Linked DNA regions of Homo sapiens: region 1 is linked to region 2. The links come from fine-mapping of genetic effects on gene expression. A gene starts in region 2. The other region holds a variant in brackets. All regions are shown on one strand. Distances are from middle to middle. Region 1 overlaps SYNPR (synaptoporin). Region 2 holds the start of SYNPR (synaptoporin).

Region 1 (2,500 bases), 58 kb before region 2:
TTTTAACCATTCTAATAGGTAAATAGGTATGTAGTTCTTATTGTTGTTTTAATTTGCAGTTCTATAATGACATTTTATGTTGAGCATCTTTTTTTTTTTTTTTTTTTTTTTTGGAGACAGAGTCTCACTCTGTCACCCAGGCTGGAGTACAGTGGCACAATCTTTGCTCACTGCAACCTCTGCCTCCTTGGGTCAATCAATTCTCCTGCCTCAGCCTCCCAAGTAGCTGGGATTACAAGTATGTGCCACCACACCCAGAGAATTTTTGGATTTTTAGTGGAGACAAGATTTCACCATGTTGGCCAGGCTGGTCTCGAACTCCTGACCTCAAGTGATCTGCCCACCTGGACCTTCCAAAGTGCTGGGATTACAGGTGTGAGCCACCATGCCTGACCTTTCATGGACATATCTTCTTTGGCTCTAGGTGTCTATACAGTTTTTAATTGTTGAGTATTAATAATTTTTTATATATCCTGGATACAAGTGCTTTATCACATATATGTTTTACAAATATTTTCTTGCAATCTGTGGCTTGTCTTTCATTCCCTTAACAGTGTCTTTCACAGAGCAGAAGTTTTTAATTTTAATGAAATCTAACTTAATTTTTTCCTTTCATAGATTGTGCTTTTGGTGATGTATCTAATAATCATTACCAAATCCAAGATCACTTAGATTTTTTTCTATGTTGTCTTTGAGAAGTTTTTTAATTTTGCATTTTACATTCAGGTCTCCATCTATTTTGAGTTAAATTTTGTGAAAAGGGTAAGCTATTGTATAGAGTCTTTTTTTTTTTTTTTTTTTTTTTTTTTTTTTTTTTTTTTTTTTGCATGGGAATGTCCACTTGTTCTAGTACTATTTATTCAAAAGATTATCTTTTCTCCATTGGATTGCATTGAGACTAAATTTTAAACATAAACTTTTTAGATTGTAAAATAGTGCACGTTTGTAACTACAAAGTTCATCATTGTTAACATTTTGATGAATATTTAATTAGCCTTTTATTCGTGTGTATGTGTGTTGTATATTTGAGATCCTTTTATGCATTGCATAATCTCTTCCCTGTACTATCCTGATAGTTTTTAGTTTCATCTTCAAGCAGAAATTCATAGTTGTATCCTCTAGAAAATATTA[T/C]ACATACTCTTTTATAATTATTTTACCTAATTAAATAATGTAAAATTTTCCAAGTAAATATTTTTTGTCACTGCATATTATTCCATGATATATTTAATCACATTCGAATGGTCAGACATTTAGGTTGTTTTTAACATTTCTATTTTCTGCTAAATGAGACATAAAAAAGGAAGCTAATGGGAGGCCGAGGCAGGCGGATCACCTGAGGTTAGGAGTTCAAGGCCAGCCTGACCAACATGGAGTAACCCCGTCTCTATTACAAATACAAAATTAGCTGGGTGTGGTGGCACATGCCTGTAACCCCAGCTACTGGGGAGGCTGAGGCAGAAGAATCGCTTGAACCTGGAAGGCAGAGGTTGCGGTGAGCTGAGATTGCACCATTGCACCACTCCAGCCTGGGCAACAAGAGCAAAACTCTGTCTCAAAAAAAAAAAAAAAAAAAAAAAAGGAAGCTAATATGGACTTGAGTGTGTTAGAAAAGTGGCCTTTAAAGACTAGGAGATAGGCAAGCAAAAGGGAGAGTGTGTAAAGGACAGTGGCCAGACAGAAGTACAAGGTCAAGAGGAACAAGGGAGTATTGTATGCCAAGCGAATACCTTGGTTAAGGCTACCAAGATCAGAGGAAGCTCTCAGGTTAACAGTTTCTCAAAGGCATGACCATTCATTCCTAGGTCATGGCTTTAATGTGCGTTAATTTGGTTAAACCAAATTCAAGGAAAATGGAAATCTCCTGGACTTTCAGGTACAGTGGCTTCAATTGGCCCTGATTTTCTTCACGTGCCAGTGCACCAAACCCAACACTTATATTATTGGCCCAAAAGTACTTGCAGTTTTTGCCATTTTTTTTTTTTTTTTTTTTTTGAGACGGAGTCTCGCTCTGTTGCCCAGGCTGGAGTGCAGTGGCGCAGTCTCGGCTCACTGCAAGCTCCGCCTCCCGGGTTCACTCCATTCTCCTGCCTCAGCCTCCCGAGTAGCTGGGACTACAGGCACCCGCCACCACGCCTGGCTAATTTTTTGTTTTTCAGTAGAGACGAGGTTTCACCGTGTTAGCCAGGATGGTCTCGATCTCCCGACCTTGTGATCCACCCGCCTCGGCCTCCCAAAGTGCTGGGATTACAGGCGTGAGCCACGGCGCCAGGCCTGCCATTTCTTTTAATGGCAAAAACCGCAATTACTTTTGCATCAACCTATTAACAGTTGTCTCTCCCTGGACTCTGTACCCCAGAGAACAGAGCTGTAGCCCAGAGACCACACAGTGCAGGGTGCATGTGAGGGGCTCATTCCTATTCTGTAATTAAGCCTTCTTCCAGTATCAGGTTTTAAAAGTATCTGCTAGTGGAACTATTAGGTTGGTGCAAAGGTTATTGCA
Region 2 (2,500 bases):
TATGTAGCCACTGCCAGATATAAGCCCTTGGAGCTAAGATCTGGGAACAGAGAACAGGCTCTTACATAATTTCCCAGCTAGTCAGTGTTAGGGACTCTGATTAATGCTACATGACAGGCTTTGAACTTTCTATTCAGATAGGTTTGCTTGCCTTTTGGAGTTCCTAGCAAGACGAAACGTGTGACCTGCAGATTTCATTCTGAATAACCATCATCCAGCCAACAACACTGACATGGCTCTGTGGCCCTGTGGGTAACCGTTTCTGTGCCTCACTCCTCTGCCCATAGACAAATTGCAATAAGAGCGTCAGGGTGGTTTCACGGAAGTGGAATACAACTTCCTAAAGCCCAGTCGCTGAAGAAAGCCATGGCAAACAGGCTGGTGGGCTCTTCTGGGTATAATCAGAAAAGCCCTAGAGGAGTGGCCAGAGAAAAGAAACTATAGTAGGGAAGGAAGGAGTTCTGCTCTCTACCCGCCGCCGTTTATAACAGTCTGTAATAGCTTCGCAGCATCTTTCCCTCCCTGAAGCTCCCGCGGAGCAGTTGAACACGCGCTTCCAGCATCCCAGTCCCGCAGAGGAGCTGTCTCAGTTCTGACCAACTTTCTGAGCTTGGCCAAGTCTTCCCGGCTCCTCCGCTCAACTATGGGTCCCTCCACCCATCCCCTCATCCCCACGAAGGTCCAGGTGAGGGGCCAGAACCCAGCGGCAGCCCTTCCATGCGCCCCCCTCCCCTATCTCCCAAGGGGGAGGTTTCTTTCCACAGCCCCTGCGCGTCTGCAAGCGGTGAGGTGAGACGACACTTGTCTAAGCCCCTGCAAAAATGCGTCCACACTCCCGCCTCCAAGCAGGGTGCCTCGATTTTGTCCTCACCACCTTGGAACGGCATCTTAGGAGGGGGCAGGATTGAAATCCCCGGCTTGAGGGTTGAATCTCCGGCTTGGAGCAGAACTGAGCAGGGAGCACCCCATCCGACCTCTCCTCACCTGATAGCTGGCTGCCTGGCGCCCCTCCCTGCACACACACTGCTACTCACCAATTCCAGGGCTCGCAGGAAGGCAAGGGGCTCCTTCAGCACCCGGAAGGTGCCCGCAGAGGCCAGCTTTGGGGGAATGAGGCGAGAGAGAGAAAGCAAAGCGTGAGGAAGGGGCTGGGGGCGCCTCTCCCAAGCCGCGGCATCCCCCGCCCCCTGCTCCCAGCCAGCCGCCCTGCCCAGTTCTGTCTCACCTGACTCACAGGGTCCATAGCTCGCCCTCGCTCGCTCTTCTCATCCACCAGTTCTTTTTAAAAATGAAGTTCGCTTGGCACCACCGTCCTCAGGGCCAGAAGCCCCTTCGGGAGCAGCCAGAGGAGCGACACCCTGGAGCAGCCCGGCGAGGGCAGGGGGCCTCGGGGAGCCCACCCGCTAACGCTGGGCTCTGCGCTCCGGGAACCCAGCGCGTCGGGGAAGCGAAGCGAGTCAGCGAGGGGTGGGCAGGGAAGAGCTGGGGCAGGGTAGATACAACAGGGGAGGGGGAAACCCATGGAGCCAGGGGAAGGCTGTCATTGGCCAGCCGCGCTCCAGAGGGGAGGGCGAGGAGGTGGGCGAGGCAGGGCCCACAGACATTGGTGCAGGCTCAGCCGTGCGCCCGGTGCCCTCTGGCTCCGGGGAAACTTTGGGTCTGTTGGTTTGGGAAAGCGGGCTTGGCACCATCAGCAAGACGGCTGTCCACCTGAAGAAGGGGTTTCCAGGTAGGAGGAAGACACCCACACTTTACCTGAGACATCTGTGTGAGTTCTGATGACTTCCAAACAGCAAAATAATAATAATGATAAATACATAAAAATAAAAAAATAACTATTTGTTGGCTCTTTCATTCATTCCTTCAAGCCTTTATGGAGCATCCTTCCTGTGGGCAGGCAGTGCTTAGGTGCTGGGGTACATCAAAAAAACAGGATAAGCATTGTCACTTCCCCCAGGGGAAGCAAAAGGGGAAAAATAACTTGCAATGTGGTCTGGACAGTGGCGCAGAGCAGAGCACAGGGGCCATGGGCACAGGGCAGGGGATCCATCTTGGCCTGTGGATGCCAGAGAGAGGACCAGGACAGAGGAAACTGCCTGGAGAGAAGAGGTGGAAACAAATTAATCTTGAATGTGGGACCATGCGCCAGTGGAAAACAGATTTAGCAAGGATGAAATGGCCAAGGTAAAACATCTCATGAAAGGCTAAACAGGGAATGAAATTTAGGTACCTTTCAAACTCATTTTATTTCTACTGAGATCTTTTGCCTGATATCTGACCCCCAAATGAACTCCCTTGTCAAACTCATAAATATAACACTGGGTCCCTCCTCCAAAGTTAGACTGTTTTCTTGAAACTTAGTGAAAGGTGGTTCACGTTGTTTACTCTTAGTGGGCTAATCTTGCTGAATATAATAAAAACAACAACAACCAAACAAGTGAGTTCTTTCTATGAGCTGAAAACTGTGCTAAGGGCTTTACAAACATTACTTCATTCAATA

Evidence for each region. PIP is the estimated chance that this variant, and not a neighbour inherited with it, causes the effect. A credible set is the group of variants that fine-mapping cannot tell apart.
Region 1: its variant is the best candidate, but not a certain one, in a credible set for the expression of SYNPR in thyroid (GTEx, PIP 0.83).

What each region holds. Positions count from the first base shown.
Region 1 is chr3:63,334,845-63,337,344 of GRCh38, reverse strand. The region is part of intron 2 of SYNPR (synaptoporin); the gene reads right to left. Among named protein-coding and RNA genes, the nearest start is that of SYNPR, 58 kb to the right of the region's middle. The variant T/C (reference allele first, on the strand shown) is at 1,132.
Region 2 is chr3:63,277,277-63,279,776 of GRCh38, reverse strand. It overlaps SYNPR (synaptoporin), which reads right to left and starts at 1,469. Exons shown (of 6, transcript NM_001130003.2): 1 at 1,226-1,469; 2 at 1,035-1,100. The coding sequence starts at 1,243.